Homo sapiens: one gene and its partners. The protein of the gene in region 1 purifies or fractionates together with the protein of each later gene. This does not show direct contact. Each region holds a gene or a part of one and is shown on either strand. Other genes may lie near its edges. The genes, in order: SERBP1, TSR1 and NSDHL.

Evidence for each region.
Region 2: the proteins of SERBP1 (region 1) and TSR1 purify together in Homo sapiens (affinity purification with mass spectrometry; 3 studies listed by BioGRID and IntAct, with this or other methods). This does not show direct contact.
Region 3: the proteins of SERBP1 (region 1) and NSDHL purify together in Homo sapiens (affinity purification with mass spectrometry; 2 studies listed by BioGRID and IntAct, with this or other methods). This does not show direct contact.

The regions. Positions count from the first base shown.
Region 1 is NC_000001.11:67,409,803-67,413,402, forward strand, and holds part of SERBP1 (SERPINE1 mRNA-binding protein 1), read right to left. Parts: intron 3,462-3,600; coding exon 3,405-3,461; 3' UTR 1-3,404. UniProt on the Homo sapiens protein: Ribosome-binding protein that promotes ribosome hibernation, a process during which ribosomes are stabilized in an inactive state and preserved from proteasomal degradation.
Region 2 is NC_000017.11:2,329,708-2,333,537, reverse strand, and holds part of TSR1 (pre-rRNA-processing protein TSR1 homolog), read left to right. Parts: intron 1-413; coding exon 414-577; intron 578-1,178; coding exon 1,179-1,369; intron 1,370-2,428; coding exon 2,429-2,591; intron 2,592-2,912; coding exon 2,913-3,023; intron 3,024-3,167; exon of another isoform or gene 3,168-3,259; intron 3,260-3,830. UniProt on the Homo sapiens protein: Required during maturation of the 40S ribosomal subunit in the nucleolus.
Region 3 is NC_000023.11:152,847,963-152,851,792, reverse strand, and holds part of NSDHL (sterol-4-alpha-carboxylate 3-dehydrogenase, decarboxylating), read right to left. Parts: intron 1,529-3,830; coding exon 1,370-1,528; intron 1-1,369. UniProt on the Homo sapiens protein: Catalyzes the NAD(P)(+)-dependent oxidative decarboxylation of the C4 methyl groups of 4-alpha-carboxysterols in post-squalene cholesterol biosynthesis. Also plays a role in the regulation of the endocytic trafficking of EGFR.

The DNA of each region.
Region 1 (3,600 bases):
TGATATTGATAAATCATTTAATTACTATGGTCCAGTTCAAATATGTATCATTTTACTGCCTTGTTACCAGTTATGCCATACAAAGCACAGTAAATAATGAAGTTTCTGGGCTTTTCTTAGTTAACCTGAAGATCTCGCTGGTACATGTTCAGACTTGCTAAAACTTATTTACATATTTGTCTCAGTATAATCCAAAACGTCTGGGTTATAATCTATTTTCTAAGTGTTTACTTTAGAAAGTAAAATTGCATGCACCTGAGATCCCTGGAATTTGCTATACCATTGGACTGGAGGTCCACTAATATACCTGAATAATCTTACCTCTAAGGTCAACATCAGTTAGGTTCTAGTAACTTCCTATTTCTCATTCCTTTGAACCTTTTAACACCTGTTGTTTCCTTCCACATGATGGTACTTTCCTAAAGACATGTTAGGTTGGTACAAAACCAATTGCACCAACCTAGTATTTTCGAAATCCAATACACATTTAGGCTTTGTATGCAACTCCCTGTTCTATTTCAGTGCAACCATCTCTGGCAACTAGAAAAATAACAAAATTAGAATGAATACTTAATATCCTCCTTTTAAATCCATACCAAAAACAAGCCCCAAATATATTTACAACCCTGGAAATGATGTGTACTACTTTTATTTAAAAAAATAAGAGTAAAGGAACTAACTAGATGTATATGGTGCCAATTTTTAAAAGTCTTGCTTAACTCCACAGGTCTCAAAATAGCTAATAAAGAAACCATGTCTCCAATCATTTCAATACAAGCTGTAAAAATGCCTTAAAAATCTCAGGTCTGGCATTACTTCCATTTAAACGCATCAAGATAAAAGTTCACTGAAACATCAGCTGCCACCATTACTTTAGGAATCTTTATCTGTTTAGGGATTTTTCCCCTAGACTATTATAGCCAGTTTGTCAATCAAAAGTAGCATTCAGTATGCTTAACTTTCATTATCAAAAAAGTGATCTGCTAAGAAGTGACAATCAGATTAAATCCAAGAAGTCCTTGGATTTTGTATTTTACAAGAATTCAACTTTCCCAATTAAGTCATTAGTCATTAAGATAAGTACCCTTCCCAAATGTGATTCAACAGCCTGGTTTTTAGCAAATAAAAACCCCATATAAAATTCAATTTAAAAATTATAAACACACAGGGGTGTGCACACAGGTCAGAAACCAGGAAACACATGACAATAAACATGATCCTATTTGATTGTTTTTATGACTTTTAAGAAGTGAGCATGAAAATAAATCTTTATTTTCAGTTATTACCCACCAATAAGAGAAAGTTAGGTTCACAGTTTTAGCTCTTGACACAAAGTGAACTAGGAGGCAAATTTATATCCATCAGATACAACTAATGCACCAACTTTTTAAGTTCAGGCTATCTTGAAAGCTTGCAACATACCAGATATTGCTATGTTGTCTCTCACGACAGCAATGGATGACACTGAGAAGTTGTGTTTTGAGTAGCAGGTGTTTTCTATAGTATGTTGCTGGAAATCAAGAGGTTTATAAAACATGGTACATGTTTGGAAATGAGTTAGATACTTGAAAAGTCTAAACACACTGATTTAGGAGTGCGTATGTTGCTGTCTCAATGAACAATGGGTCAATAGTTCATATGGACTAAATTAATCTCTGGGTAGCACGTATGTGTGTAAATATAAAATTATATTAGACATTAGCACCAGTGCAGAACATGCTCAGCATCATAAGATCCAAAACACCAGCACAAGTTTATCCATCATTAAAAACAATTACCTCCTTCCTAAAATGTCAGAATAGTAGGTAACTGAGATTAATAAATCTTATCCAAAAAGTAACTCTTATAACATAAAAGTTTCTTTTAGAAGTATATGTGAGAACCAATCAGCTAAATAGAAATGTTTAAGATTGAAGATGTCCAATATTTTTAAAACTGGACATTACCATATACAGGTAGAACATTTCTAAAAATGACGTGACAAACAATTCTTAAAAATTTTTTAAAAATTCCTTCACTGTTTATCAATAAATGTGGCAGAATAAAAGACAATCCTAGAAAACTTTTTTAATTCATCATTCTATGTGTGTTTTAATAAGTGGTGATGCTCCCATTATAGGAATCCATTATTTACCTAATTTTCTAATGGAGGAAGAGAGAAGAGATAATTACCACTTTCTGTGGAATACTCAACTTACAACCAAATAATAGCAATCTAGGAAATTTAGAAACAGTAAAGGTTTTTGGTTTATATTTCATGTATAGTGCTGCTGTTCCAACCTTACAAAGTAAAGCTGTCTGCTTCCCAAATTCCAAAAATTAAAATACTCCCCCACCTCACCCTACCAACCAGCGCCCTTTGGTTTTTGTTTTAGAACAAGGAAGGGTTAAATGGTGGCTGATTATGGATGTACCATTTTGATTTTGGGACCTTTCACACACAGAAATCATACCAAATGGCCAGACACTTATTTTACAGAACAGTTTAAATATTACACATTGGCCAAATCAACTTATTCCACCCACCCTGGTGAAGGGGGAGAAAAAACCCATACCTATAAAACTACTTCACTTGACACGATGTGCCTACCAACAATAAGTAGTTTAAACAACTTTCACCAATTAAGATGTCTAGTTTAGATTTTAAAATGGGAAACTCAAGCATTTAAAAAGTAAATATAGCTGAAAATGTAAATCAGTTATAATTTGAACCTAATGAGCCATGCAAGGAGCAAGGGTTAATAAACCAAATGTGCTTTGAATTTGTTCAAGTACTGATATTTCTGTATATAAAGATTTAGCATATATATATAACAGCTATCATGAGAAGTGAAAAAAGATTTTTCCCCAAAAATGAAAATATTAAAACTAAGTTAAAATACATATAGTTAGTATTCCACACAGCATAAAATTTGACAAATCAAAGTTTAACATGTCCCAGTTGACCATGTGTGAATATGCAAAGCAGGTATTAAAACCAGTATGTCCAATATTTAAAACCAGTTTGTAATTGGGGGAACTTCTAAATCCTTAATTAAAAAACACAAATGAAGTGAAAGCTTTAAACTGGTACACACTGTTCACACCTATATTTCAAGTTTGGAAATGCATATTTGCAAGCAGCAATACAAAAGTATTCATGAAGAATGCATAATCTCTGAAAATTATGAAAACATCCCTGCTACCAATACATTTCTAAATACAAAACTGACTACCATATTTGTTACTTCTGTGTAGCGGGAGAAGTTCATTTTTAAAACAGATAAAATTCAGTCTTTAGGTGTGAATGGTATGAATGACAGTCTTTTTTTTTTTAATTTCTTAGTCGTTTGGAATCCTTAAGCATGCAAAAGCTTTGAACAGAAGGGTTCACAAAGGAACCAGGGTTGTCTTATGGCATCCAGTTAAGCCAGAGCTGGGAATGCCTCTGGGTCATCCACATCAGGAGCAGAAGCACTTGACTGAAAAAGAAAAACCAAAATTAACCACAGTTCTCAGTTCTTCAAAATTACATTGTTAGCTAGTGTCTACATTAAGACAGAACTCTAAAAAAATCTTACTGTTGGCCAGGCACAGTGGCTCACACCTGTAATCCCAGCG
Region 2 (3,830 bases), on another chromosome or scaffold:
TCTGTAATTCATCTGACCTGGAATTGTGGATTTTCTGTAGCTGTTCCAAGTGAGGGCCCTATAGGATAGAGTGGGGTGGGGGTATAGTTGAAAGTCTCTCCTCACCCTCAAATGCTGTATGTTTTCAATAAACAAACATTATACACAGTCTTGTTCCATTTCTCAAAATTACTTGTGTTAATGTTTTATCATGAACAGATAAACAACTTTGGATTCATTGCAGGGCTTATTTAGCTGTGTAAGTATTGCTAGTTGTGAGGCAGCTGAATTAAATTTGGAAGTAGTTCTATTTACAGTGTCTGCCAGAATTTCCCATGTTGGCAGCAGTATCTGGTGCCTTGCCTAGGTGAGAATAACCAGAGGGATAGGGAAAAGAAGTCTGTAATTTACTTAATTTGTTTGGGCTTTTACAGATTTCTTGAAGGAAAGTTCTAAGGTGGTAAAGAAGGTCCCCAAAGGAACATCCAGTTACCAAGCTGAATGGATTTTGGATGGTGGCAGCCAAAGTGGTGGGGAAGGAGATGAATATGAATATGATGATATGGAACATGAGGATTTTATGGAGGAGGAATCTCAGGTAAGGAAATGAGGCCTTAGGCCAATTCTGTGTCTAGCTCCAAATGTAAGGCAAAGTGCAGGTGTGATCTTGATGGGTGTGTGTGGTTAGTTTCTTTTTTTTATTTTTTTTATTTTTTTTTTATGAGACGGAGTCTTGCTCTGTTGCTCAGGCTGGAGTGCAGTGGTGCGATCTGGGCTCACTGCAAGCTCTCCCTCCTGGGTTCACGCCATTCTCCTGCCTCAGCCTCCTGAGTAGCTGGGACTACAGGCGCCCACCACCATGCCTGGCTAATTTTTTTGTATTTTTAGTAGAGACGGGGTTTCACTGTGTTAGCCAGGATGGTCTCAATCTCCTGACCTCATGATCCGCCTGCCTTGGCCTCCCAAAGTGCTGGGATTACAGGCGTGAGCCACCGCACCCGGCCGTGTATGGTTAGTTTCTTAGGAATGACTCTGTAGTTGCCAGGAATGAGGCTTTTGTTTTATACTTTAGACTGTATTAGAATTTATGTTGGTTGGGAATAGGGATCTAGTACAATTATTTTACTCTTAGCTTATTGGCCTTTGGGGTAGAGACAGGTGTGGATTTCTTCTGAAAAAACTGTAATCCTATTCTACAGGATGAGAGTAGTGAAGAAGAGGAAGAATATGAAACTATGACTATTGGGGAGTCTGTGCATGATGATCTGTATGATAAGAAAGTAGATGAAGAAGCTGAGGCAAAAATGTTGGAGAAATATAAACAAGAAAGACTGGAAGAGATGTTTCCAGATGAAGTGGACACGCCCCGTGATGTGGCTGCTCGAATTCGGTTAGTCAACAAGTCTATCAACAAATCTAAATTCAGTCAATACGTTTTTAAAAACTTGGCTCAGAGCTGTGTCACTGTGATGCAAAAGAAGAAAAACACATTTTTTCTGCTCCTGAAGAGCTAACATTTAATATGGGAAGGCAGGACATACATACGGGAAATGGTCATATGTAATTAAGTTCTAGACTGTGGTGCAGACTCACGTTACAGGACTTGAATGAAGGGGAAATACTAAGGTTAATTAGCAAATACTTCTTCCCAAAGGAGCCAGTACTCAATTGAAGTATATAATGTTTGGAAATTTTAGGGGGTTTGGGTAGAATAGCAGAAGTAGAAGAGTGAAGAAGTAGATGATTATATCTGTTCTGGAGGTGAGTGACTAAAGCCAGTGAATTAATTTTGGATATTAGGAGGTAAGGCTATGTATTAGGCCATTCTCGCATGGCTATAAAGAAGTACCAGAGACTGCATAATTTATAAAGAAAAGAGATTTAATTGGGTCATGGTCCTGCAGACTGTACAGGAAGCATGGTGTTGGCATCTGCTCAGCTTCTGGGGGTGTCCTCAAGAAACTTACAATCATGGCAGAAGGTGGAGGGGGAGCAAGTCATGTCACACGGCCAGCGCAGTAACGAGAGCAAGGCAGGAGGTGCTACACACTTTAAACAACTAGATCTCATGAGAACTCACTCAACAAGGAGGGTGGTGCTAACCCACTCATGAGAAAACCTCTCCCCTAATGCAGTCACCTCCCACCAGGCTCCACCTCCAACACTGGGGATTGTATTTCAGTATGAGATTGGGGCAGGGAGACACATCTGAACTGTATCAGGCCATTACCAAGCATCTTTTTTGTCAGTGAGAAGCTTGGGTTTGGTTCCGATAGAACTTGTTATAAGCTGTTCGGAGTGTCGTCTTGGTTTAAGCTGTTGGGTTGTTTGGAGAGAGGATGATTGGAGTTCTTTTCAGCTAGCTCCTTAGCCATTTTAGCAGTGACTTGAGTCTATATAGCACCATATAAATCTGACTTAATGTCTTTAAAAATCTTCAATATTCTAGATTTCAGAAATACAGAGGCCTTAAGAGCTTCCGGACATCTCCATGGGATCCTAAGGAAAACCTTCCTCAAGATTATGCTCGAATATTTCAGTTTCAGAACTTTACTAACACTAGGAAAAGCATCTTTAAAGAGGTTGAAGAAAAAGAGGTTGAAGGAGCTGAGGTATCTATCCTCCTTGTTCATCTTGTATGTTGCTTTCATTTGTCAACATGCTCCCTACTTTATTCCTTCTCTTGGCATGAAAATATGCTGCATTTGGGGATTAGGGGAGCCCCTGAGTCATTGATTAGAATGATACTGGGAACAAAGAGGTATCAGCTATGTTAAATGAAAAAGTGTGATCTGGGTAAATGAAGCATCTTGAAGGATGAGGGTTGGCTTTAAAAATTTTATCTGAGAGACTCAACATATTTGGAGAAAGCTTCCTCGCTATTGGGACTTTGAAAGGTAACTCCATGATTGCTTTCTGCTTTCTTGTGGCAGGTTGGCTGGTATGTCACACTTCATGTCTCTGAAGTCCCCGTCTCAGTGGTCGAGTGCTTCAGGCAAGGAACACCCTTGATTGCATTTTCTTTACTACCTCATGAACAGAAGGTAAATTGCTGTCTTGTGGGAAAATGGGGGGTTGTGAAACTTTCCAGCTGCTTCTGACAGTCTAAAATTCTGTTTATGTGTGACTAAAATTTTGCTCATTGGGATGCAAAAAGTCTGCCTTTATGATTAGGAATTGGAGAATAATAGAGAAGTCAATGATGGTTTTATTCATATCGTCTGAACCTGTCTGAAGCATCTCAGTGATGCAATCTCTGTGTGGTTCTGAGACTTCTCCAAGTATGTTTTTCAGACCAGATTTTGAATAAGGGTTGGCAGCCTTAAAAATAAAGGTTTGGCTGGGCGCGGCGGCTCACGCCTGTAATCCCAGCACTTTTTGGGAGGCCAAGGTGGGTGGATCACCTGAGGTCGGGAGTTCGAGACCAGCCTGACCAACATGGAGGAACCCTGTCTCTACCAAAAATACAAAATTAGCCAGGCGTGGTGGCACATGCCTGTAATCCCAGCTACTTGGGAGGCTGAGGCAGAAGAATTGCTTGAACCCAGTAGGCGGAGGTTGTGGTGAGCCAAGATTGCACCATTGCACTCCAGCCTGGGCAACAAGAGCGAAACTCTTATGTCAAAAAAAAAAAAAGTTTATGCCAAAGTGCAGATCTCTTTTCTCTTGGTGGCCAGTAGTTGTGTATGTTGTGGGGTATGTGATAGTTCTTTGATCGGTTTTGGTAAGGGCTCAAGAAGAAGGGGCTTGAATGAGTGTGGTTTTGAGATTGTGGTGAGTGAATGCCTTGAAGGCCACTGATTTTTGTGTGGCAGATGTTGAGCTCTTTTCTGTTAGGTGCAGGAAGGTAG
Region 3 (3,830 bases), on another chromosome or scaffold:
TGAGAAATGATGTGGAGTCACTGGGAAGGGGAGCAGGCGGCTGTGGGTGGCCACCACAAGGAGGGAACGGTGTCGGGGTTTGTACAGTCTGAGGGTATCCTCTTCAAAGCTGGAGAGGCTTAGAGCAGCATGAGGGAGAACGGTTCGGAGGCAGCAATGATGAGCATGAAAGATGTCTACCCCATCTCCAGGCCTGGAGGTGTGGGCAGCACGGGAGAGAAAACAACCGTAACTTTGCAGCGGAAGCAATGGCCTTAATATTTCATCAACAAACCATATAGCGAATGACACCAAAGCCAAGAATAAGGGCCCAGTGACAGGCTGAGGGAAGCCATCCATAATAAGTACAACGGGCACAGGATTGGCATCCCAACTAGATCAACAAGGAAGCAAAGGTAACCCCAAAGACAAAGGGGCAAAGGACACAGACAAACATTTCACACAGGAGGAAGCCTGAAAGCCGATCACCCAGTGGCAGAGTGGCTGGTTACTTGGTCAGGGAGGACATGTGACTCTGAACATCAGTGAAGCACCACTTCATACTTCTCAGAATGGCAACACCAAAAAGTCTAGTTATGCCCAGTGTTGGCAAAGATGTGAAGCAATGGGGCTTGTGCCACATTGTGGATATGGAGGTAAAATTGACATAGCAGCTTTGCTGAGCCATTTGGCACCATCTAATAAAATTCAAGATATTCATACCTGTACAACATGGATGAAGCTTGAAAACATCATGCTAAGTGAAAAAAGTCAGGCACAGAGGTACAAATATTACATGATTCCATTTATATGAAATGTCCAGAAGAGGCCAATCCATAGATGGGAAGTAGATGAGTGGCGGCCAGGGGCTGGGAGGGGAAGAGAGGGGATGGCTACAAGATTTCATTTTGGGGTAATACAAATATTCTGGAGTTAGATCATGGGAGACAGTTGCACAGCTTTGTGGATGTACTGAAAATCACTGAATTGCACACTTTAAAAATGTGAAATTTGTGGTACATGAATTATATCTCAATTAAAAAATCAAGACCCTGTGGCCCAGCACACACTTGTTTTGCAGTTGGAACAATACAGCCCATGGACGGCTTTTGAAGTCAAGTTTCACTGGCATACAGCCACAGCCATTTGTTCATTTAAGTGCTGACCATGGCTGCTTTTGTGCTACCAGGACACAGCTGAGTATCTGTGACAGAGATGATGGTTATTCATTCTAAGCAGTAAGAATGTGGTGTTCTTTCCTATAACTTTGAAAATTTTCACAATGAAACAATTGTTTTTCAAACAAATTGGCTGGCTTCTGAGCAAGGGAAGTATCGTGGTTTCCCTTCGTGGGCTCGTGGGAAATCAGCAAGGCTGCATGGTCCATTACCTGTCGGCTGCAGAGGTCACCCAGAAAGAACCGCACCTGGGGATTATCAAACCCTTGCTGGATATCAAATACATTGACAGCATATCCTCTTGCCAGCAACTGCTCCACCATGTGCTGCCCCAGGAATCCAGAGCCACCGATCACTGTGCATCTCTTGGCCTGTGGAAAGAGAGGAACGGTGGGGAAGACCAGGGTAGTGAGGACTGGAAGCTACAGAGTCCAGACTTACATATCATGAGCCACTGCAATGGCAGATATACTTGTTTGTTTGGAACTCTTCTTGAGCCAAGTTGGAAGCTTTATATCATCCTGGTGTTCCATCACTAGTGCAACCCTAACCTTCTCTCCTGGGATCAGTAAGGAGGGAAGAGAGATAGCGAATGACACTGAGATTGACTTTGGTTGGGTTTGATGACAAGATCCATGCTTTGTATTCAGTGAAAGGAAATCAAACCACCTATGACCAAAACTGGACAATCTAAAAAATACCCCAAAAAACAGTGATACCTTCTTGTTCCCGATAGCTGATCCCTGGGCGCTTCTCTAAGGACAAAACAAAACAAAACAAAACGGCAGCCATTTGGTAGCTGATAGCTTGCACTGAAAACAACAGAAAGAAGAAAGCAGTCTCCATACTTGCAGGACAAAGTCAGTCCCTTTCCCTCTCTGGCCACAACAGGGCTGGGCTGTGTGGCTCTGGGCTCATCGCCCAACCCCTTCTTGCCTCAGCCTAGAAATCTAAGACCGCCTTGATGGGATCTCCTGGTGGGGCTGCAGTGAGGATGGATGAGCCCAGGGCTCTGCTTTCCCTCCTCCGAACTACAAGGAAGTTGAAGAAATGGGGAGAGCCATGGTGTTTATGTCTCAGCCTCCACAACACACACGATTCCTTGGGTAATTCCAACTCTGGTGACTGGGCATAATGAAAGGACACAGTAGCACATGCAGGCACTTAAATACCCTCATTTCAGGATGTTGATGCCAAACTGTGGCTGCTGCACACCAGACAAGCTGGCTATGGGTGTCTGTGAGGAGGACCTGTGATATCCCTCCTCCCTAGGGTCTTTCTAAAACTGTATCTGGGCCTCCTTAAGATGACAACCTCCAATTTCCTTAGCTCATATACAGTAAATCCAACTTGGGTTTGTGGAAATGAAAGATCTTAAAGAAATTATGTTCTAGATTTAAAAAACAAACAAATCTCCCTACTTATTCCTTAAACATCAACACAATTGAGCTATGCAAGAGACTCAAGGGATGCCAGGGCCAGACATCCTCTCTAGATCCACCTCCCTCCCAGTTGGGGTGTCCCATCTGAAACAGCACTCATACTGGATTCCACCAGGCCCAGCTGGAGCTGGCACTGTACTTTACCTTCATCTGTCCATGTGCAATCTACTAACAAAATCAGCCTCACCATTCTTCTACCACCCAAAACTAACTTCCCAACCTGTTCTTTTCTAGGCTTTATTCTGATTATTCCTAAACACATGTAATCATACCAGGTTACATGATTTGCACCTGGACTGAGATGTATATTTCCTCAAGTCATAGCCAAATTAAATACAAAACTCACATCAATCCCTTTTCTAGCAATCCCTTTCTTCTCCCCTCCTCCCAAGTCAGCTGTACAGGCAAACTGTAGCTATTTAGAATAACTCTGAGCTGCCTGTTTCCCAACCTGGATTTCTGCAGTTTACTAAAAGTCTGGCTAAGCCCAAAGACAGTCAGAACTAGATATGTTACTAAAGCATCCTGAAAGATTTCAGACTGCCTTGTTTATTTCATTTGGCATCTCTAGTTACAGGTGTTTCAAAAGGTTGCTAATCTCTTCAAAAAACAACCTTGCTGTTAGTCCAGTGTGATTTCATTTCACGATTTTAATTGTGACTAATCAGTACGCTACTCTTGGACAATGTGACGTGGATTATTTTATGATATTGAAATGTTCTATCAATAATGTTTGGGATGAGTAGGCCAATGGCTGTTCCCTGGAGACCCTTGTAGTGATGGGAATCAAACTGGCCTTTACCCCAGGGAAGTCAAATGTGTGATAATCATACCTATAATGCTGTGTGATTACAGGAGATCACATGAAACTTTTCATGACCACTTTTTACTTCTCACAGCCACAGTGGACAAGAATGAACATGTACTAACAATCAAGTATAAAACTCAAGACTGGAAACAGCAAGACTCCATAATGGGTTACTGAGGTGAGTTATAAGATCAACCTCTTGGAGACAGTGTTAAGAATAGGGGCCAGGCACGGTGGCTCATGCCTGTAATCCCAGCATTTTGGGAGGCCAAGGTGGGTAGATCACCTGAGGTCAGGGGTTCGAGACCAGCCTGGCCAACATGGTGAAATCCCGTCTCTACTAAAAATACAAAAAATTAGCCAGGTGTGGTGGTAGGCGCCTGTAGTCCCAGCTACTCAGGAGGCTGAGGAGGGAGAATTGCT